7 linked regions of the Homo sapiens genome follow. Changing the gene in region 3 together with the main gene of any one other region gives a genetic interaction. Each region holds a gene or a part of one and is shown on either strand. Other genes may lie near its edges. The genes, in order: PSMD1, EBNA1BP2, CDK1, GPN3, MTRES1, MRPS23 and GTF2E1.

What was found.
Region 1: changes in CDK1 (region 3) and PSMD1 together harm fitness less than expected from each alone (positive genetic interaction), as found in Homo sapiens cells (one large-scale study listed by BioGRID).
Region 2: changes in CDK1 (region 3) and EBNA1BP2 together harm fitness less than expected from each alone (positive genetic interaction), as found in Homo sapiens cells (one large-scale study listed by BioGRID).
Region 4: changes in CDK1 (region 3) and GPN3 together harm fitness less than expected from each alone (positive genetic interaction), as found in Homo sapiens cells (one large-scale study listed by BioGRID).
Region 5: changes in CDK1 (region 3) and MTRES1 together harm fitness more than expected from each alone (negative genetic interaction), as found in Homo sapiens cells (one large-scale study listed by BioGRID).
Region 6: changes in CDK1 (region 3) and MRPS23 together harm fitness less than expected from each alone (positive genetic interaction), as found in Homo sapiens cells (one large-scale study listed by BioGRID).
Region 7: changes in CDK1 (region 3) and GTF2E1 together harm fitness less than expected from each alone (positive genetic interaction), as found in Homo sapiens cells (one large-scale study listed by BioGRID).

Annotation. Positions count from the first base shown.
Region 1 is NC_000002.12:231,059,867-231,063,366, reverse strand, and holds part of PSMD1 (26S proteasome non-ATPase regulatory subunit 1), read right to left. Parts: intron 2,101-3,500; coding exon 2,057-2,100; intron 1,120-2,056; coding exon 1,046-1,119; intron 862-1,045; coding exon 692-861; intron 1-691. UniProt on the Homo sapiens protein: Component of the 26S proteasome, a multiprotein complex involved in the ATP-dependent degradation of ubiquitinated proteins.
Region 2 is NC_000001.11:43,166,488-43,169,290, reverse strand, and holds part of EBNA1BP2 (probable rRNA-processing protein EBP2), read left to right. Parts: intron 1-262; coding exon 263-352; intron 353-2,055; coding exon 2,056-2,131; intron 2,132-2,371; coding exon 2,372-2,465; intron 2,466-2,803. UniProt on the Homo sapiens protein: Required for the processing of the 27S pre-rRNA.
Region 3 is NC_000010.11:60,777,345-60,781,277, reverse strand, and holds the start of CDK1 (cyclin-dependent kinase 1), read right to left. Parts: upstream 2,801-3,933; 5' UTR 2,708-2,800; exon of another isoform or gene 2,610-2,707; intron 1,138-2,609; 5' UTR 1,113-1,137; coding exon 1,076-1,112; intron 1-1,075. UniProt on the Homo sapiens protein: Plays a key role in the control of the eukaryotic cell cycle by modulating the centrosome cycle as well as mitotic onset; promotes G2-M transition via association with multiple interphase cyclins.
Region 4 is NC_000012.12:110,455,122-110,458,257, reverse strand, and holds part of GPN3 (GPN-loop GTPase 3), read left to right. Parts: intron 1-623; coding exon 624-748; intron 749-2,327; coding exon 2,328-2,443; intron 2,444-2,575; coding exon 2,576-2,672; intron 2,673-3,136. UniProt on the Homo sapiens protein: Small GTPase required for proper localization of RNA polymerase II (RNAPII). May act at an RNAP assembly step prior to nuclear import.
Region 5 is NC_000006.12:107,031,199-107,034,698, reverse strand, and holds part of MTRES1 (mitochondrial transcription rescue factor 1), read right to left. Parts: intron 1-3,500. UniProt on the Homo sapiens protein: Mitochondrial RNA-binding protein involved in mitochondrial transcription regulation. Functions as a protective factor to maintain proper mitochondrial RNA level during stress.
Region 6 is NC_000017.11:57,837,163-57,840,044, forward strand, and holds part of MRPS23 (small ribosomal subunit protein mS23), read right to left. Parts: intron 2,774-2,882; coding exon 2,621-2,773; 3' UTR 1-2,620.
Region 7 is NC_000003.12:120,745,744-120,749,243, reverse strand, and holds part of GTF2E1 (general transcription factor IIE subunit 1), read right to left. Parts: intron 1-3,500.

The sequences.
Region 1 (3,500 bases), on a different chromosome or scaffold from region 3:
TCATTTACTACATCAACAGTTTTCAAGCATTTTTTTACACTATAAAATCTTTGTATCAAATCTTACATAACTAGTTGAATTTACAACTCTGGTTGAAATATGTGTCAGAAAATTCAAAGCCTTGCCTGTGTGTTATCCCCTTCCTTCAAAAATAAGGAAACAAGTAAGAAAACAACGGTTACAAATAGAAACAGTATGGGTTTTAGAGTGAGTAAAACCAGGTTTTAAATTTTATCCTTCTATTTAATAACCATGTCTTTATCATCTCAAAATCCAAGTTGTCTCATCTGTAAAACGGCTAGCTCCTTCCTCATGGGGTAGCTGTGGAATAAACCATGGTATGCAGAGTGACTAGCACGGTGCCTAGCACAATGCAGATACTAAATAATGGTTTCCTGTATTCGAAAAAACTACACAAACTGGTACCACTTGTTACTCATACTAATCTGATTTAATCTTTTCCTCTAACAGTAGGCTCACTGGACTGGTGATCATCATAACCACTGAGAACCAGCACTCAGTTGAAGGGCAGATCTAAAAACTCAGCCTGCATAAAATTATTATAGAAAGATTAGGAACTTCCAATTAAAATGAAATTTGGCAACATCAAATTCAGGAAAAAAGCTTCTATGTGCACTACAGCAAGAAAGAAGCCGACAAGATAAAGCCTTACCAGATAGACGATAATTACCTATAATAGTTTCCACATATTCAGAGTTATCATTGACATTGAAGAGGTCCCCTGCTCCAAGAGCATAATTCAGAGACTCCTCAAAAGCCCCCAGGTGATAAAATACTTTAGATGCCACTAAGGCTGCAAACTGCCGACTCCGGAAACCTTCATCTTCGTATAAAACCTCTCTGAAAGAAATTAGGAAGTACAGGTCTAGTTCAAACTGTGGTTTTCCCTAAAAATCCCAAATCTAAATATTCAAGCCACAATTCAGTTAACAGCAAATTTCTAAATGAATCAATAAGCCACAAGACCCACATTCACAATTAAATTTGATCCATCTTATTCTGATTTATAAAAATAATTTCTTACATTTTGTCTACGGACTCGGAAATTTCTGCCCAGAAGTCATTAACAACTGCATTCAATTTGTGTAGTGCAAATTCCTGTAAAAGATAACCAAAATCCTATTTTGAGATAGACTTATCATTACACTTCCTTAAAAAATTCTTTTCAGCAAATCAATGATCAAATCCTCAGTAATATTTACTCAAACTTTTACTCTATGACAAATATAAAAATTTACCAACTTACACTTTTTCTTGAGTTTACACATTTCTTTTCTGTTTTCAATCATCAACATTTTTCTTCTTTGAATATAAACAATTAACTCCAGGTTGCTGGTTTAGATGTAAAGGAATCAAGTATCTAGAGCCACCAGAAGGACATTCCAAATTTTCATCAAATAAAAAACTTTAAATATGTGAAACAGAAGCAACAACTTTTTGTGTTTTCTGTTGATAATGAAACTGGGGCGGGGGAAGCGGAAGGTGTGGTGGCTCAGACCCGTAATCCCAGTACTTTGGGAGGTCAAGGCGGGGGGATCACTTGAGCCCAGGAGCAGGAGTTTGAGATCAACCTGGACAACACAGTGAGACCCCATCACAACAAAAAATTTAAAAATTAGCTGAGTGTGGTGGTGCATGCCTACAGTCCTAGCTACTTGGGAGGCTGAGGTGGGAGGATCATTTGAGTGTAGGAGGTCAAGGCTGCAGTGAACCATGACCACACACTGCACTCTAGCCTGGGTGATAAAGCGAGACTCTGTCTCAAAAAAGAAAAAAGATTAAAAAAAGAAAAAAAAGAAAGAAATTAGGGGGCTATTCAAGTGTCGTAACGAGGTTTATTTGTCTTAGCTTTGTTAAACTCAAGGGAAACCAACTGCTGTGGCCAAAATACTGTCCTCTCTGGCTAGGTTACAGTAACTGGGTACAAGCCAGCTAGGACAGCAACTTTAAATGATGGAAGATTACAGATATCACTAAATTCAAAAGGCTTCACAGTATTCACACTAAGCCTAGTTACTTATTCTTCAATTCATACCTTAAGCTGTGGTTCATCTTCATCCAGAAGAGAAATAATTCCAGCTATGAGAAAAAAGATGTAACATGATTATGAAACACATTCTCACTAAAGTGGAAATTAACACCTGGTCAAAAATACATGATGGCTGAAAAACAATTTTTTTGAGGCGTAACTTCTCCAGGGGAATGATTATTTTTCTTTGAAAGTGTAAAGGTTTATATCTCAAGTTTAAGACTTAACTATATTATCAAACCCTCATGGCACCACATATATTACATCATTTGCCTAATTCAATGGTTTTCAGTGTGTTCCCTGGACTAACAGCATTGCCTGGGAACCTGTTAGAAATACACATTCTCGGCCCCATTCCAGACCTACTGAATCACAAATTATGAGGATGGGGCCCAGTACTGTGATTCTTTTGCTCTCTATAGTTTGAGAACCATTGGCCTAATTTACTGATTAAAATGGGAAACTTTCCTATACAATTTTAGAATAAAATTATTCATACAAAATAAATCAACAGTTATAAGATTATTTACAAAAATGGGAGCATTTAGTCATCAAATCAACAAGGTAAAATACTTCAATTATTTCAAGGTGTGTATATTATGGCACCTCTTTCCTATCACAAGTAACCTGGGTTTTACCAAATGATGAACAATCATACTCATTCTGAATTCAATTACCCAAGCACAGTGTTCTCCATATGGCTTCTCTTAGCCTCAAGGTATTACCACTAACATAGGAGAGTAAAAGGAATAATTGTCCTCTCCAAAAGAACACACCTTGAAATATAGTCAAAGGTCAAAGGGATTATTGGAAAAATGATATGGGAAATTATTGTACTAAGACCACAAAGGAAACCACTCTCAAATGCTTTCCATGTGGGTTTTAAAATCATTCCAGAACACCGAGTTGAAACTGTGGTTTGATTAAAAAGTGTCAAGGCAACTTAGTTAGATGTAGCCATTTCTAATTGACAAGTATAGGTTTGCCAAATAGCTTAAGCAATCTTTAGGAAGCCACACAGGAAAAGATACAAAATTTACCAAGCAAAACTAAAGTAGCATAAAAGCAGATATAAAGAACCTCTTGGTACTCTAGGTTGGTATGACAAGTCCAGAACAGAGATTCTGAATGGACAGCACAGGGAACAGATAAATTTCAAAATTCAATCAGTGAAAAAGAAAAAATTGCAAACTAGTGATGTGGAGTAAGATGACAGGCCAGAATGCTTTAAATGTAGAACAGATCTTAAATAACAGAACACTTAATACTAAAACTGCTACCTATCCTCAGTCAATGTATTTGAACGGCTTTTACCAAAAAGGGAGATGGATTTTTATATTCTCTGGTTTGGTTTCACTTATGACTAACTGGTTACATGGTTGTCCTGGCTTGGAAACTCAGCCTCTGGCCATGGACCAGAACTAAATCAAATACTCTACACTCCATACAT
Region 2 (2,803 bases), on a different chromosome or scaffold from region 3:
CTGGGCTACAAATAGGCAGTTTGTATAATGAAACAGACAGCACACTGGGAGCGGGAAGGTGACTTTCAATCTCTGGCTTCACTCTGGCACTTTTGGTAAAGTGCTCAGCCTGTGGGCCCCATTGTCCTCAGGGGTTGGAACTGATGATTTATAAGTTCCGCAGTTTAAAGAACAGGGAATATCTGTTCCCTGCTCTAGCGAATCCTAAGTAGTGGTCATTCCAGATTCAAATGACATGAACTGACAGCATTTTGTGTTGTAGATTCGACAGAAGCTGCAGACTAAACAGGCTGCCATGGAGAGGTCTGAAAAAGCTAAGCAACTGCGAGCACTTAGGAAATACGGGAAGAAGGTGAGAAGAAAAGTGTGCAGGGAACAGGAAGAGGCGGAGTGTGTGTTAGATGAGATTGCCGTGGTCTGACTTGGTCCCCTGAACTGAACGGAACTGTGTGTTGATCATGTATTTACCGTCTCTCAGTGTATGTGCTGGTATTCATGAGCACAATCTTGCCTGGACATGAGTGGTTCCCCAGGAGTAGTATGGTGACTGCAGGTGAGCCAATCACCTCTCTGGGCGTTAGTTTTCACATCTGTACACTGGGTCCAGATGAGTGGTTTCCAAACCTGACCTTATAGCAAAATCACCAGGGGAAATTTTTCAAAACAGAATTCTAGACTTCAGAATCCCCAGGAATCTGTGCCTGTTTTCCCCTCTTCCCCAAAAGCTTTCCAGGTGATTCTGAAATGCATCCTGGTTTGGGATTCACTGATCTATGTGATAATCACGTACCTGAAGAAATTATCATAATGATTGTCATCCAATCTGAAAGATTGCCTGCGTGTTTGAACTATGAATGTCTGAGTTCTAATGTAACACCAGATCAGGCATACCCTAAAACTTTTCTTGGTTTTCCTTTTTTATTTCATGGTCATCTAAGAAAGAAGATGACAGATTTTAAAGTTAGGATTGTGGGAAGAAATGAATGTGAGGAAGATTGGTGTGGGTGTTAAGACTTCGTCAACATTTGGACATAAGCACTTGTGATCTGGGCTGCAGAACTCTTGTCCACGTTTGGAGTCATTTCACTGATACATTCTCAGCAAAGTAGGAATAGGCTGGGATCCTGTCCTCTACAAAAGGCCTGCTGCGGATTTATTATTTCTTTGATCTGGAGGTGGATGGCTGAGATTCTCTCAAAGACACCAGTAATTAATTTAACATAGCCAAAGTTACCAAAAGCAAAGACAAACTCACTTGGGCCTATTAGTTCACTGTTCCTAATTTAAGGAAACACTGGGGAAGAGTTTGTTAACTGGGGGTGAATTTGCTCCCCAAGAGTTTTCTGTGACTGCCTGGAGATATTTTTAGTTGTCAAATTTGGGAGGGAGGGTACTACTGGCATCTAGTAGGTAGAGGGCAGGGGTGCCGCTAAATATCCTACAGTGTAGGACAGGCCCCTACCCCCCAGCAAAGAATTATTCTCTCCACACTGTAGCAGTATCAAGATTGAGAAACCCTCTGTTAGAGTATTATAAAGTGTCTCCTTTTATCCTTCAAACTTTTTTCTTTTCTTTACCTGGGGACATTGTTTTTTTCTCTTCCTTTTGGTACTTTCATGCCTAGTAACAGTGAGTTAGATAATTAATCTGTCCAAATGTGATGCGAAAAATCGATGTAGTCTTAAACATGATTTACTTCAGTTTTGTAGGCAGGATTGTATAATAGGGTGAGTGCTGGCTTTGGAGTCAAACAGCCTGGGTCATCTTGGCTGTGCATTTTTTCACTGTGCGACTTGGGCAAGTTAACTTCCCTGTGCTTCAGTTTAGGGGATAACACAAATTTCAACTTCACTGGATTGTTATGAGACAGATATATCTTCATCTATGAAGAATATACCTAGATCTGAGAATATACTTAGAGTCCCTAACACAGTTTTTGGCACGTAGTAAATGTCAGAGGGTAGTGGTATTAATCATGGTGTTGCTATTAAGACAATGTAGACACTGGAGTAATGGTATGGAATGGCTGTAACGGTCCTTGTGTTCATATCACAGGTGCAAACGGAGGTTCTTCAGAAGAGGCAGCAGGAGAAAGCCCATATGATGAATGCTATTAAGAAATATCAGAAAGGTTGGTACATCTCTAATAGGGGAACGAGGGTAGCAGGTACTTTAGAGTTGATTTGAACACTTAGTGCTTTGGAGCCTTCTTGGTTGATGTGGACCTGTCGGATCAAAGTTTTGGGAATGGTGTTGGAGAGCAGGATGTGACTCTTAAAATCAGTGTAGCAAATAACAGCCTCATATGGTGGTTTAAACTTTTATTCTTAAAATACAATGGTGCTGATCAAAACTACTTCTTCACTTACAGGCTTCTCTGATAAACTGGATTTCCTTGAGGGAGATCAGAAACCTCTGGCACAGCGCAAGAAGGCAGGAGCCAAAGGCCAGCAGATGAGGAAGGGGTGAGAAGGGTTTTGGCATGGTTTCTTTGGTTCTGTGAGGTGCGATGGGGCCACAGGTCACGAGTATGGCAGACATAGCACCTCCACCGGCGCAGCCATAGAGTCCAGAGAGTGCAGCTGCTGCCTGGGGCCAGGACCCCTATGACTGTGTGATGGGCCCTTTTAGCCATGTCAGTCTTTGAAGAGTAAAAGAAGGCACTTTTTAAACTTCTTTTTTTTTTGGACAGTCTCATTCTGTCACTCAGGCTACAGTGCACTGGTACAGTCTTGGCTCACTGCAACCTCTGCCACCTGGGCTCAAGTAATTCTGTGCCTCAGCCTCCTGAGTAGCTGGAACT
Region 3 (3,933 bases):
CAGTCTCCTGTATGTTTGGAGTTCTATCATCTTAAAGAAAAATATATTTATACTTTAAGAAGGTCTCTTTTTATGCCAAACTAAAACCAACACAAATTCTCTGGGAATTTAAGAAACACACTACACAGCATTAGACATACTAATCACATATTTTTAATTCAGCAGCAAAATTTGTTTAGTAGAATGGGTATGAGGTATTTAAGTGATTTAAAAAAAAAATATATATATATATGTATACACACACACACCTCCAATCGAACACCACACTAACTTGTCACTCCTATTCCACTAAATTCCCTCCAGTATTCCCCCTTGTTTTTCACTATTTCTTGTCAAGTGGGGTCTTTGATCACATTAAAAATATAGTTGGGAATTTTCTTCTGGCAGAACCTATATAAACTGGATTCTATTAGCAAATTATTTTGTACCTGGAGAATCGAGAATGTTCTGCTGGAGTCGAGGAACAGGCGAAGGGATATACCCCTCATTTGTGCCATATATAGATCTAAACATTCCTTCAAGTACCACAGAAAGGGAAGGATTATATACATAAGTTATAATTTTAGAATAGCTTAAACATGTCTATATGACAGGTCATTTATACTTAGGGTAACTAAATAGAAATTTTATTTAAATTAGATTAAGTCAATTATTGTAACCAGTCTATAAAGTCTGGATAAAAATATTTATCATCCTAAAAACAATTGAAAGAGACTAAAACTAAAAATATATTATGAAGTTAGCATAATTCTGCAGCCCTAACCTCTGCCCCTCAACACACATGCAAGTTATCAATAGTGTCTTCAAAATACAAGTACTACTATAAGTGTTTAGTATCAGAAGACTGTAAGACTATGGGGGTGAGGCGAACGGTCATTAGGGATTCGGTAATTTCAATTCTCTTGAAATGTGAGCAAATTTGCGTTTATTAAGTAAAGAACATATGTTAATGCACACTGGTACTACAAGACAACTTAATGGTTGAATTTTAATAAATATTTAAATGTGTTCATATTACAGAAGTTGTAGCATTGTTAAATCATTCCATAAAATTTATTTTACTAAAACCACTCACCTTCTCCAATTTTCTCTATTTTGGTATAATCTTCCATAGTTAGTCAATGGGTATGGTAGATCCTAAAGTGAAGGAAAAACTGACTTAATTACATGCCACTAACTCGAGTAGTTTTAAGCATTAATGAAACACTATATGTAAAGCATTTTCCACAGTGCCTACTGCAGCATAAGTATTCCATAAATATTAATTACATTCAAACAATATTTACAAGGGTAAGGACTCCTACAATAACTTTCCATCCTTCTTGACTCCTGAGACATTGGAAACGTGTATATTCTATACTAGTGTAGTATTTAGCTTCTTCCAATCAAAATAACCCTCAAATTCAGGTATCAACTTGTCTATTCTTTCCAAACAAAAACCAGAATTATGTTCCCTTTTTGTGACACTTTAAAGTAGTACCTGCGTGTGCCAAAGTTATACCCAAATATTTCAACAAATTTATACCGCTTTATGATACTCCTAATTTTATTCAAAACATTATTTTTTAAAGTTATGAGGACAGAACTAAAATGTGTTCAGACTGTTCATTAGGAAAATTTTGTTTAAAACGACAAAAACATTTTAAGTGTTTACAGTTGCCCACGTGACAATTTTAATCTTTTTCCTCTGCTTGCTGAGGTCACAGACAAACATGCTCAAGACTTTCAAGGTACTTTTTCCAAGAGTAGGAAATATCACTTAAGCACCGTAAAACAAAAGAATGAAAAGTGCAATTCCACAGATAAAATTCTAATTATAACCTAAACAATGTCAAGGACTAAGCAGAAAAACGGTATACTTGAATCACAATGAATGGGTTAAAAAAAAAAGCTGACAACCAGAAGTTCAAGACTTCCTCTGAAGTTTGCCAATGAAACGTCAGAACTCCAGGCATAATTACCTAGATTTTTCTAACACCCATCACTGATGATAAAATCATTTATAAAGCACACTCAGAATAGACCTTTAAGTTCTATTTCTCACATTCATCTTCAAAGAAAAATCAATCCAGAAAGAAGCAGAGATGTATCTTTTTAAATGAAAAAAACTGCACTACACTGCTCATGAGAGTTAAGTGCCTGGGCTGACTGTTCTTAACAGCTCCAGGTGGGCCGGGGCCGTGGGCAGAGCAAGCCCAAGAAGGCCCACGAGTTCCAGGATCGGTTTCTCAGGGCGGCCTGGCTCTAGGGACCCGCGCCTGTACCTGGCCCAGGTGCGGTCCCACTTTCCCACCCCCGAGGCGGGATGGCAGGGCGCGCAGGGGCCGGGCCCAGGAAAGAGCCTGCTACTCCGCAGGCGCTCAGCGTGGGGGAGCGGATTTTGCTTCAATCAAGACCCGAAAGCCTCTTCAGGCAGTTCCTGAGAACAGCCGACCTCGACTCATGACTGCAGCCCCGAACCCCCACCCCCACGCCGCCTAACCCCGCCAGGCTGGGCTCCCATAGCCTCCCTCTAAAGCCAGCCCAGTGTGGCTCACACGGCCAGACCCAGGCGAAGGCCCTGCCCACCGCCCCCCGAGGCCCAGCCGGGCCCCGCGCAGATCCCTGACCTCCAGTCCGGCCTTCTTAGAGGACCCCGTTCCTCAATACTCGCCCTCCGAGGCCCTCGGCCGTCCCCTAGACACGACCCTGACCCCAGCCACTGTACCCGGCTTATTATTCCGCGGCGGCCGCAGCGGCAGCTACAACAACCGCGTCGCTCTCCGCTCAATTTCCAAGAGCCAGCTTTGAAGCCAAGTGCGAGCAGTTTCAAACTCACCGCGCTAAAGGGCCCCGGATTCACCAATCGGGTAGCCCGTAGACTTTCAAAGCAGCCAATCAGAGCCCAGCTACGCTGGGCAGGCCTTCCCGGGTGGCTAGAGCGCGAAAGAAAGAGGAAAGGGCGGCTAGAGAAAAAGCAGGAGGGCGGGCGCCAACTGAGTGCGAGCGCAAGCGCTCTCCTCCAGTCGGGAGAGTGTCGTCCTACTGTTTCTAGTCAGCGGAGCAGGAAGCTACTGTTCGCTCCGTTCTTCTTTTAAATTTTTTCTCCCAGCATTGGCACAGTTCAAATTTATTATACTCAAAATAGCTCATCAAAAAAGTGATATTGTGTTTACATCGAGATTCCATTACTTTCACTTCTAATACTTAGGGTTAGGAGTGTATAGTTATGTTTTTCTAAATGCGTGATTTGCGGGCTGGCTCCAAGGAGCACATTTCAGTGACCTTAAGAAGGAAATGGAAAACTCAAAAGACCGCCTCAAAAATGTAAAGGAAAATTTATTATTTATATCGCTGTGCTTTGTTTCTACCTCATTTTTGAATTTAATATTAAATTATTTTATTATTTACATTTTGTTTATTATACAATTAAAAACATTTGAAATGTATTAAATTTTAAAATATTTTCACATCAGAATTTTAAATATATAGAGAGAGGCATGCATTTAGAGACTGGGTCTCATTATGTTGCGCATGCTGGCCTCCAAATCCTGGGCTCAAGCAATCGGCCTCAGCCTCCAGCGCAGCTGCGACTACAGGCACTCGCCACCACGCCTGGCTTAAATATAATTAAAACACAAAAATTCACAATTCTATGAGGGGAGAGAAAGAGGCTTAAATTATGCTTTAAATAATCCAGTGTCAAAAACTCTGTCTTCATTGCCATCCATCATATCCTTGAGAGAGATTTCTGCACTTACTGCAGTTAATTTTTTTTTCCTTTTTCTTGTTCTTTCCTTCTTTCTCTCTTTCTTTCTTACTTTTTTTTTTTCTGTTTGTTTGCGGAGACAATGTCTCCTTATGTTGCCCTAGCTGGTCTCCAACTCCTAGGCTCCAGCAATCCTCCTGCCTTGGCCTCCCAAAGTGCTGAGATTACAGGCGTGAGCCACCAGC
Region 4 (3,136 bases), on a different chromosome or scaffold from region 3:
CCTCCCACCTTAGCCTCCCAAAGTGCTGGGATTACAGGTGTGTGAACCATGGCATCTGGCCAATAACACTCATATTGATTGGCAGAAAACTAAAGTGTGAAGAACCTCATTTTCTTTCTTTCTTTCTTTTTTTTTATTTTTAAAGACAGAGTCTTACTCTGTCGCCCAGGCTGGAGTGCAGTGGCGTGATCTTGGCTCACTGCAGCCTCCTCCTCCCGGGTTTAAGCAATTCTTGTGCCTCAGCATCCCACAGGCGCGCACCACCACGCCTGGCTAATTTTTGTGTATTTTTAGTAGAGATGGGGTTTCACTATGTTGGTCAGGCTGGTCTTGAACTCCTGGCCTCAAGTGATCCACCTGCCACAGCCTCCCAAAGTGCTGGGATTACAGGCATGAGCCACCCTGCCCAACCAGAGAACCTCATTTTCTACATAAAACTTAATAGTTAGGGATTCCTATGGTGGCAGTACCTTAGGTTTTATGATTGCTTTGAGAGGCTGTGGGCCCCTTAAAAATGTGTTGGCTTTTATTTTTGTCCATCTTATGGGGAAAATTTGTTTCCTCTAACTTGATGATTTAACATACTTGCTATTTCTAAAATTCTTGCAATACTCTTCATGTAGGTCAGATTGAGTTGTACACTCACCTGCCTGTGATGAAACAGCTGGTCCAGCAGCTCGAGCAGTGGGAGTTCCGAGTCTGTGGAGTTTTTCTTGTTGATTCTCAGTTCATGGTGGAGTCATTCAAGGTCTGAAGCTAAATCTCTTACAGATTTTTTTTTTTTTTTTTTTTTTTTTTTTGTGTGTGTGACAGAGTCTTACTCTGTTGCCTAGGCTGGAGCGCAGTGGCGTGATCTCAGCTCACTGCAACCTCCGCCTCCCAGTTCAAGTGATTCTTGTGCCTCAGCCTCCTGAGTAGCTGGAATTACAGGTGTGTGCCATCATGCCTGGCTAATTTTTGTATTTTTAGTAGAGACGGGGTTTTACCATGTTGGCCAGGCTGGTCTCAAACTCCTGACCTCAAACATCAAGTGATCCACCTGCCTTGGCCTCCCAAAGTTCTCTTAAAGATTTTTAAACTATGAGTTCAAGCAGATGACAGTTCCTTTAATTATTGTGTGATTCTGAACATTTCACAAATGATTCCAGAGTTACTTTATCCCTTTTATTATTAAATTATAACATGTTGTTAATCAAAAATAGTAAATTATTATATCATAGAGATTTAGGAGGAACTGCTTACCAAGAAAAAAACTGAGGTTGCTGGGTGAAGTGGTTCACAGCTATAATCTTAGCACTTTGGGAGGCCAAGGCAGGAGGATTGCTTGAGCCCAAGAGTTTCGGACCTGCTTGGGCAACAGAGTGAGACCCTGTCTCTACAAAAAATATAAAAATTAGCTAGACGTTGTGGCACATGCCTGTAGTCCCAGCTACTTGGGAAGCTGAAGTGGGAGGATCGCTTGAGTACAGGAAGCAGAGGTTGCAGTGAGCCAAGATCGCCAAGATCGCACCATTGCACACCAGCCTGAGTGACAGAGTGAGACTCTGTCTCAAAAAAAAAAAAAAAGAGGAAGTAGTGGGGGAGAAAAAACTGAAGCAGATGGCTATTTTATAAAATAGTCTATTTTTAATTTTCTGAGGACCTTTTGTCCAGTTTATGAACTACCAAGATCAAATTTTTTATTAATAGCTCTTAAGGAATATTAGATGGGAAAGGAAATTAAAATGCTGTCTAAATTGAAATTTGTGATCACTGTATGTTATCTATATCTTCCCTCACCTTTGGGAACCAAGAATCAAGCATTTGATTCCCAATGATTTGGGAACATTTTTTTCTATATGGCTAGCATTACTTTTAATAAAATATAAATAATTTTGCCTTTTCCACATGTTCTGAACTGGCATTTCTTTTTTTTTTTTTTTTTTTTTGAGACCAAGTTTTGCCGTTGTTGCCCAGGCTGGAATGTGGTGGCGCAATCTTGGCTCACGGGAACCTCCGCCTCCTGGGTTCAAGTGATTCTCCTGCCTCAGACTCTTGAGTAGCTGGGATTACAGGCACATGCCACCATGCCTGGCTAATTTTGTATTTTTAGTAGAGACAAGGTTTCACCACGTTGGCCAGGCTGGTCTTGAACTCCTGACCTGAGGTGATCTGCCCGCCTCAGCCTCCCCAAGTGTTGGGATTACAGGCATGAGCCACCACGTCCAGCTTGCATTTCTTTTATTTAGGCCAGTTCTGTTCCAGTGAGGAATAGAAGACTCTTTATGCAGACCAGGTAACTGTTGGCAACAGTCAGTTCATCTTCCCTTTTCTGTTTCCTCCTTCAGTTTATTTCTGGCATCTTGGCAGCCCTGAGTGCCATGATCTCTCTAGAAATTCCGCAAGTCAACATCATGACAAAAATGGATCTGCTGAGTAAAAAAGCAAAAAAGGAAATTGAGAAGTGAGTTCACTGTTCTTCCATTATTATCAGATCTCAGTTGCAGAGATGAACCTTCTGTTTTATTTAGATGGGAAGTTTGGCTGGTTTATAAACCTAGTCTCCTGAATTCATCAGTCTTTCTGTCTTTTAAAGATTTTTAGATCCAGACATGTATTCTTTATTAGAAGATTCTACAAGTGACTTAAGAAGCAAAAAATTCAAGAAACTGACTAAAGCTATATGTGGACTGGTAAGCTTTTAAAGTTTGGATTTTTTGGCCAGGTGCAGTGGCTAATGCCTGTAACCCTAGCACTTTGGCAGGCCAAGGCAGCAAGATTGAGTCCAGGAGTTCAAGACCAGCCTGGGCAACATAGTGACACCCTATCTCTAAAAAAATTTTTTAAATTAGGCCAGGTGCAGTGGCTCACACCTGTAATCCTAGCACTTTGGGAGGCCAAGGCAGGCTGATCATTTGAGATCAGGAGTTCAAGACCAAGCCTGGCCAACATGGTGAAACCCTGTCTCTACTAAAAATACAAAAAAAAATTAGCTGGGCATGGTGGTGTGCGCCTGTAATCCTAGTACTCGGGAGCCTGAGACAGGAGAATCACTTGAACTCGGGAGGCGGAGGTTGCAGTGAGTTGAGATCATGCCACTGCAGTCCAGCCTGGGCGACAGAGTAAGACTTTGTCTCAAAAACAAAAAAAAATTAGG
Region 5 (3,500 bases), on a different chromosome or scaffold from region 3:
AGTCTCCTTAAAGCTCATTGTTTTCACCGTGGGCCAGGCATTGCTCTACACGTTAACTCATTTGTTCCTTGCGACAAGCCCATCTCAGTTATAGGGTCACACAGATACTCTTCAAATCTAGGCATCCGAGCTGCAAAGCCTAGACTCATTACTACCATGCTGAACTGTCCATCAGTGTTCTGACTCCAAGTTAAGCACTCTTTCTTCCACACCCTGACATCTATTTTCCTTTTTTTTTTCTGGAATAAAAACTCACCAACCAGTGCAATACCAGAGAGAACAGATAGTTTTCAGGGGTAGAAGAGTGGGAGGAACTGTTGCCCCAACTTAGAAAATATCCTAAGAGGAGACACCTAGGGAAGGGAAGTAGTCCTGTTTCTGTGTCAGACCCTGGGTGCCCACACTCCCCATCCATAAGTTCTATTTTTATGTTTTTCAGTATCTTTTTTACACTCTTTTCCTGACTTTGAGAAAAGTCCTAGCTTTATACCGTACCGTTGTTTACTTTGAGGAATGCCTAGATATGATGTGGCTCTCTGCTACCTGCATTAGGAAACCTTTCCTTGCAGAAAATAACTATTTAGAATCAGGTGCACTTGTAAATTCAACAAACATACCAAAATGTCAAGCCACGTATTCCCTTGTGTTTATTAGCTACTCACTACCTCTCATTGTGATCAGCTTAACTTTCTAGCAGGCAAACATTGGCAAATGTTGGAAGCTTAGATAAAATTCATTAAAAACATAAAATTGAGGAAACACATTAAGCTAATTCTTGCTGGAGATGATGACCATTTGTAGTTGTTAGCAGTGGGCACTCAGGGTCACAAGGGAGGACCCAGATTCTGCCTCAGAACTTTGTTATTATTATTATTATTTTTGAGACGGAGTCTTGTTCTGTCGCCCAGGCTGGAGTGCATTGGTACAATCTCAGCTCACTGCAAGCTCTGCCTCCCAGGTTCCTGCCATTCTCCTGCCTCAGCCTCCCAAGTAGCTGGGAGTACAGGCACCCGCCACCACGCCCGGCTAATTTTTTGTATCTTTGGTAGAGACGGGGTTTCACCATGTTAGCTAGGATGGTCTTGATCTCCTGACCTCGTGATCTGCCCAGCTCAGCCTCCCAAAGTGCTGGGATTACAGGCGTGAGCCACCGTGCCCGGCCCTGCCTCAGGACTTTGAAACTGGTCAGGGGAGCCCTGAGTTGGAAGTGGGGGTGCCAGAGAAGAAAGCTAACCAGGCACCCAGCTCCTCTCAAGCCAAAGCAGCACTGGAGAATACTGGGTTCCTTATAGCTCACTTGAAAAAAAAAAAAAATCTACTACTGAAAAATTCCTGTCCCTTTGTCATGGTCTCCTCTTCCTCCAGACTCCACACGAGTCACATCCTCCTCTACCAAGCCATGCCCCACATGCCCTTTTCCATACTCTGGTTGCACCAACACTACACATTTTTTTGTTACTTTTGAATTAAGTCACAAATTATCTCCCAAACTCTAAGTGTAGTGATAGGGACTACACAGTGCCCTGTTCTTCACTCCTCTGCTCAGGACATACCAAAACCAGTGAATGGTTGCAGATTCAATTTCTAGAAATGAAATGAGCATCCTGCCCATTACTATAGCCACCCCTACAATCACTCGTTCGCCCACATATGCCAAGTTCCTGGGTAGGCCTTGGTATAAAACACACAGTCCTTGTCACCAGGGAACTGCCATTTAAGTGGAATGTGGACAAGTAAACTGACTGCCAGGGCACAGATGTGAAAGCAGGTCCGGGGAGGCTGAACCCTGCACCAGCTGGAGCGCAGAGCAAGGATGCCTACAAAGTTCTGAGAGCAAAGGTGGCCTGAAACCGAGCTATGGGGAAATATCAAGTTACAACAGTGATTTTTTTGCTTGATAATGGACCAGTCCATTGGCATGCTGTTATTTTTCTCTCATTCAAGGATGAATGAGGATGAGCATTCAAGGATGCTCAGGCATTTTTTTATTTTTTTGAGATGGAGTCTTGCACTGTCACCCGGGCTGGTGTGCAGTGCTCAGCTCACTGCAACCTCCGCCTCCTGGGTTCAAGCAATTCTCCCGCCTCAGCCTCCCCAGTAACTGGGACTACAGGCACACGGCACCACGCCTGGCTAATTTTTGCATCTTTAGCAGAGATGGGGTTTCACTATGTTGGCCAGGCTGGTCTCGAACTCCTAACCTTGTAATCCGCCTGCCTCGGCCTCCCAAAGTGCTGGAATTACAGGCGTGATCCACTGCACCCAGCTCAGGCATTCTTGCTCTGAGCTCCAGCTGATGCAGGGTTCAACCTCCCCTGGACCTGCTTTTACATGTGTGCCCTGGCAGTCAGTTTACTTGCCCACATTCCACTTAAATGGCAGTTCCCTGATGACAAGAATTGCGTGTTTTACCAAGGCCTAGCCAGGCACTTGGCATATGTGAGGAAATGAATCAACGTGGGGGTGGCTATAGTAAAGGAGAGGATGCTGTTACTTTTGTCTCATTCAAAAGCAAGCAATTACACAAACCTCTTGCCTCCACTCCTCCCCAGCTACCACCTCTTTTCTTGCTCCTCTTTACCATAAAACTTCTCAAAACAGTTGTCTAACTCTCCTCAATTCCACTCCTTTCATTTTCTAAATCCAAAAGGTCATGTTAGTCCTCATCTTAATTGACTCCTCAGCAGCACTTGAAAAAACCGATCACGCCTCTCTTCTTCACTTGGTCGCCAAGACACCTTACTCTTGGTTTTCTTCCTGTCTCTCCTGTGGCTGCTGCTTCTCAAGACTCCTCTGCTGGCCGGACACGGTGGCTCATGCCTGTAATCCCAGCACTTTGGGAGGCCGAGGTGGGTGGATCACCTGAGGTCGGGAGTTCGAGACCAGCCTGACCAACATGGAGAAACCCTGTCTCTACTACTAATACAAAAATTAGCTGAATGTGGTGGCACGTGCCTGTAATCCCAGCTACTCAGTAGGATGAGGCACGAGAACCGCTTGAACCCGGGAGGCAGAGGTTGCAGTGAGCTGAGATTGCGCCATTGCACTCCAGCCTGGACAACAAGAGTGAGACGTCTCAAAAAAAAAAAATAGCTGGGCACGATGGCAGGCATCTGTAATCCTAGCTACTCAGGAGGTTGAGGCAGGAGAATCACTTGAACCTGGGAGGCGGAGGCTGCAGTGAGCCGAAGCCATTGCACTCCAGCCTGGGCAACAGGAGCGAAACTCTATCTCAAAAAAAAAAAAAAGAAAAGACTCCTTTGCTGCCTCCTTCTCTTCTCCTTTTTTCTTTTTTTTTCTTTTTTTTTTTTTTGAGACAGGGTCTTCCTCTGTTGCCCAGGCTGGAATGCAGTGGGTGGCGCGATCTTGGCTCACTGCAACCTCTGCCTCCCCAGTTCAAGCCATAGTCTCCCACCTCAGCCTCCAGAGTAGCTGGGATTACAGGCGCCCACCACCACACCCGGCCACTTTTTATATTTTTAGTAGACACAGGGTTTCAC
Region 6 (2,882 bases), on a different chromosome or scaffold from region 3:
CAGCTTTCTCCCCATCCAGATATTTGCTATACAGGGATGGTCTTTCCCTTCTGGTCCAGAGTCCCAGTCTGGTTTAACAAGATCAGAATGTGTAGGGGAACGCATTCTCATACATTGCTATGAGAGTATAGTTAAGCACAATTTCTATGGACGAAGATATCAAAACTCAAAATGATCTGCTCCTTGATCCAGCATCCCATAACTCTAGCAGCCCATTTGCAACACAGTAAAACAAAGAACATTTTCTTCAATCGGGCACTGATTAAATCACAGTGGATCTCTGAGACATAGTAACTAGAAAAGCAAGGTACAGAACAGTATGCATAGTGTCCTGTCCATGCCCAAAATATTTCTGGAAGAGCGCACAAGGAAATGGTGATAGTGATGGCCTCAGGGAAGGGGAAAAGGGTGGCTGGGGAACAGGGGTGGGAGACTAGCTTTTTACTGTTAAGTTTTGAACCATGTGCATGTATAATTTTTTTAAAGAATTATGCAACAAATAACTTCTTTAAAAGTCTTCAGCCCCAGTACGGTCGCTCAGGCCTGTAATCCCAGCACTTTGGGCGGCTGAGGCAGGAGGATCGCTTGAGGCCAGGAGTTTGAGACCAGGCCAGCCTGGGCAACATAGCAAGACTCCATCTCTACAAAAAAAAACAAACAAAAAAAATGTTAAAGAGCCAGGCGTGGTGGCACATGCCTATAGTCCTAGCTATTCGGGAAGTGAGCCAGGATGGCTTCAGCCCAGGAGTTAAGACTGCGGCAGGGTATGCACCACTGCACCCAGCCTGGGTAACACAGTGAGACCCCCATCTCCTAAAACAAAATTAAAAAAAAAAAAAATTAAGGCCAGGCATGGTGGCTAACACCCGTAATCCCAGCATTTTGGGAGGTTGAGATGGGTGGATCACTTGAGGCCAGCAGTTTGAGATCAGCCTGGGCAACATGGTTAAAAGCCCGTTTCTACTAAAAATACAAAAATTAGCCGGGCGTCATAGCATACACCTGTAATCCCAGCTACTTGGGAGGCTGAGGCAGAAGAACTGCTTGAACCTGGGAGGCGGAGGTTGCAGTGGGCCAAGATGGCTCCACTGTACTCCAGCCTGGGAAACAAAGTGATACTCCATCGCAAAAAAAAAAAAAAAAAAAAAAAAAAAATTAAAAATCTACAGAGGAGGAAAACAAACAAAAATAGCAAAAATGGGACATCAATCCAGACATGAAGGAAAAAAACATTTTTTAAATATTCATCATTGTGGCAAAAAAAACCTGCCCTTAAAAAACCAGAAACCTAAGGTTTAAAGAGATGAGTGACCCCTCAATTGTTCCTCTGAGAATAGACTGTGTCTTTCACCTGCTTTTTAAGTCCTCTTCCCAAGGTCTGGCCCGATGTTTGGTCTCAATGGTTGTGTAATGTCTCTGAATGGATGAAATTTACTTCCCTACGGAAAAGTAAAGCATTCTCCAAATGCAAGCAGTTGTGAAACAGTGATAAAGGTCGAGGGGGAAGCAGCATGGCTGAGAGCTGCTTTTGCCTAATGTATTCATTCACCTGCATGAACCAAGCACCCACGTGCATGGATGTGTACTATATACAGACTGTGAGATGTGGACCTGCCTCACAGTGTACCAGGAGAGATGAGAGCATACACAAAGAATCACTGGGTAGAAAATCTACATGAGTTTTAAAATAGGGAATTTCTGAAGCAGCTTACTACTAACAGCTAAAAACCACTGGCTTGACCACATATACAAAGGCTGCAATCTCAGAGGGATATTTCATGTATTTAGTAAAACCTGGGGAAACGAGGAAGGCAGGGAAGTTGATAAGGACTTGTAGGCACACTTTGGCCCCAGGGAGGCAGGTGGATGCTGGTGGAGAGCATCACCTAAATTAGCTGCCTCCTTTCTTGGCAATCCTGTTATCTACACCATATGAATCCAGTCTTTAGCTGGATATAACCATTCGTTCACTCATTCATTCAACAAGTATTTACTGAACAGCCTAGTCTGTGCAGGCCTATGTTAACTGTCTCCAGCACACTCAATCCATGACATTAAAGTTACAGTTTTGGTCTTTGTGTATCAGCAATGACAGGTCCTCACTCTTACCACAAAGCGCAAGTCAGCTTGGCCTCTCAAGTGGAGAGATAATCGTTCTATAGCAAGAAGTACAAAGATTCTCTGCAGACAAAACCAGCTAGCCAAGGTTCCACAACATGTGTACACGTATAAGTCTGATGGATCAGAAGAAATATGTACCCGGGAATCAGATGTAGCCAGCCCACATACTAACAAACATCAAAGCAAGCCTAGTCAGATTGAGTCCCATTTGAACAATCTTTATAAAGGTTTCTTCATGTTATTTACAATTCAAAGTAAATTTACTTTATAAGCAGCTAGGGAATTCTTTATTTAGTAATGTCCTAACATAAAAGTTCACATAACTGCTTCTGTCAAACCATGATACTGAGCTTTGTGACAACCCAGAAATAACTAAGAGAAGGCAAACATAATACCTTAGAGATCAAGAAACATTTACACAGTTCAACTGTTTAAAAATAGCTCAACATTCAGCCAGTGAGTAGAGTGTGAATGCCAGCATACACAGTATACAGGTCCTTCAGGGAGGCAAGAGACCTTTCGACTGGTCTGCAGGTGCCTCCAAATGCTGGTCCTGTGGAACTTCTTTCTGAGTCTCGTTTTCTTCCAACGCAGTCTGTGGTCTGACACTCAAGTGTTCGGATTTCCGGGAAACGTGACTACCTCCGTGTTGCTTAAAAGACCAGATTTAAGTATCACAGAGATGTTATCATTTTCACTCAATTAATTCGCTAAAGATATATAACTAGGCACATTCTGTCACTGAGTGAAAAATTTAGCAC
Region 7 (3,500 bases), on a different chromosome or scaffold from region 3:
TAAAGGGTATTCAATTAGGAAAAGAGGAAGTCAAATTGTCTCTGTTTGCAGATGACATGATTGTATATCTAGAAAACCCCATTGTCTCAGCCCAAAATCTCCTTAAACTGATAAGCAACTTCAGCAAAAAGTCTCAGGACACAAAATCAATGTACAAAAATCACAAGCATTCTTATACACCAATAACAGACAAAAAGAGAGCCAAATCATGAGTGAACTCCCATTCACAATTGCTTCAAAGAGAATAAAATACCTAGGAATCCAACTTACAAGGGATGTGAAGGACCTCTTCAAGGACAACTACAAACCACTGCTCAATGAACTTAAAGAGGATACAAACAAATGGAAGAACATTCCATGCTCATGGGTAGGAAGAATCAATATCGTGAAAATGGCCATACTGCCCAAGGTAATTTATAGATTCAATGCCATCCCCATGAAGCTACCAATGACTTTCTTCACAGAATTGGAAAAAACTACTTTAAAGTTCATATGGAACCAAAAAAGAGCCCACACTGCCAAGTCAATCCTAAGCCAAAAGGACAAAGCTGGAGGCATCACGCTACCTGACTTCAAACTATACTACAAGGCTACAGTAACCAAAACAGCATGGTACTGGTACCAAAACAGAGATATAGACCAATGGAACACAACAGAGCCCTCAGAAATAACGCTGCATATCTACAACTATCTGATCTTTGACAAACCTGAGAAAAACAAGCAATGGGGAAAGGATTCCCTATTTAATAAATGGTGCTGGGAAAACTGGCTAGCCACATGGAGAAAGCTGAAACTGGATCCCTTCCTTACACCTTTTACAAAAATTAATTCAAGACGGGTTAAAGACTTAAATGTTAGACCTAAAACCATAAAAACCCTAGAAGAAAACCTAGGCATTACCATTCAGGACATAGGCATGGGCAAGGACTTCATGTCTAAAACACCAAAAGCAATGGCAACAAAAGCCAAAATTGACAAATGGGATCTAATTAAACTAAAGAGCTTCTGCACAGCAAAAGAAACTACCATCAGAGTGAACAGGCAACCTACAGAATGGGAGAAAATTTTTGCAACCTTTTCATCTGACAAAGGGCTAATAACCAGAATCTATAACGAACTCAAACAAATTTACAAGAAAAAAACAAACAACCCCATCAAAAAGTGGGCGAAGGACATGAACAGACACTTCTCAAAAGAAGACATTTATGCAGCCAAAAAACACATGAAAAAATGCTCACCATCACTGGCCATCAGAGAAATGCAAATCAAAACCACAATGAGATACCATCTCACACCAGTTAGAATGGCAATCATTAAAAAGTCAGGAAACAACAGGTGCTGGAGAGGATGTGGAGAAATAGGAACAGACTTTTACACTGTTGTTGGGACTATAAACTAGTTCAACCCTTGTGGAAGTCAGTGTGGCGATTCCTCAGGGATCTAGAACTAGAAATACCATTTGACCCAGCCATCCCATTACTGGGTATATACCCAAAGGACTATAAATCATGCTGTTATAGAGACACATGCACACGTATGTTTACTGCGGGACTACTCACAATAGCAAAGACTGGGAACCAACCCAAATGTCCAACAAGGATAGACTGGATTAAAAAATGTGGCACATATACACCATGGAATACTATGCAGCCATAAAAAAGGATGAGTTCATGTCCTTTGTAGGGACATGGATGAAATTGGAAACCATCATTCTCAGTAAACTATCGCAAGAACAAAAAACCAAACACCGCATATATCTCACTCATAGGTGGGAATTGAACAATGAGAACACATGGACACAGGAAGGCGAACATCACACACTGGGGCCTATTGTGGGGAGGAGGGAGCGGGGAGGGATAGCATTAGGAGATATACCTAATGTTAAATTACGAGTTAATGGGTGCAGCACACCAACATGGCACATGTATACATATGTAACTAACCTGCACATTGTGCACATGTACCCTAAAACTTAAAGTATAATAATAATAAAATAAAAATAATAAAAATAAAAAATAAAATAAAATAAAATAAAAACCTGGGCTTCGGGAGGTGGAGGTTGCTGTGAGCCAAGATTACACCATTGCACTCCAGCCTGGGCAACAAGAGCGAAACTCAGTCTCAAAAAAAAACAAAACAAAAAAACAAAACAACACAAAACTGGGCTTTGAAATTCAGAGTACACAGCCTGTGTTTTGGTAACTGTGTAATCCTGAGCAAATCCCTTAAACAATTTCAAGCCACCTTTTACTCGCTAAGAAGTAAGGATAGTATCAACTACCTCAGTGGAGTTGTTGTGATTAATAAGAATATAATTAAAGTGCTTAGGAAGGACAGCTTCCATATCAACTTAACATGTTCCAAACTAAAAATGGCTAGACTATCCACACAGATTAAATCAAGTTAAATTTCCCTAGGCCACAGGGAATTTGTTTTTCTTTTCATAGAGAGAGTGTCTTGCTCTGTTGTCCAGACTAGAGTTCGGTGGTGTGACTTGGCTCAGTGCAGTCTCAACCTCCTGGGCTCAAGCAATCTTCCCACCTCAAACTCCCCAGTAGCTGAGACTACGGGTGGACACCACCATGACTGACTAATTTTTGTGTTTTTTGTAGTGACAGGGTTTCACCATTTTGCCCAGGCTGGTCTCGAACTTCTGGGCTCAAGGGATCCACCTACCTTGGGGGCTTCCTAAAGTGCTGGGATTACAGATGTGAGCCACCACACCCAGCCCACAGGATAATTTTTTTTTTTTTTGGAGACAGGGTCTCGATCTGTCACCTAGGCTGGAGTGCAGTGGCGCAAGCTCGGCTCACTGCAACTTCTGCCTCACAGGTTCAAGCAATCCTCCTGCCTCAGCCTCCTGAGTTGCTGGGACTATAGGCATGCACCACCACGCCTGTCTAATTTTTGAATTTTTAGTAGAGACAGGGTTTCACCATCTTAGCCAGGCTCCACAGGATAATTTTTAAGAGAGACATCCCATTGAACTATTTCAATGGAGAATCATATTCTGTTATTAATACTAGTTTCAACTAACCCTTTTATTTGAAATCAGTGGTTATCAACCCAACAGATTTAATACTCTTTTTATAAGAAATATTTTTATATCCACAGTACCATACTATAAGGAAACTCTATACACCAATCTATAACCAATCTATGCATATATTTTGGGGGGAAAATATAAGGCCCTTCCTGTAATAAAGGAAAAGTAAAAGTCAGTCAAAAGAAAATACGTACTTTAGGTTATAAATACTCAGGTATGACTACATATTGTAAGATATAACAAAGTAGCACCTAGATCCAAATCTGTGAACTTAGAGCCTTCCTGCTACCCCAGGGCTTAAGGATGCCTGGGAAGTACCTGGGCTCGACACCAAAGTAGTACCACAGCATACTACTGGACACACTTTTCTCTCCTTTTCGGTTTGGTCTATACATTGTACTTGAACCCCGTTTTCATTTTTTGTTGTTTTACATCCTCAACAGTTGTCAGAACA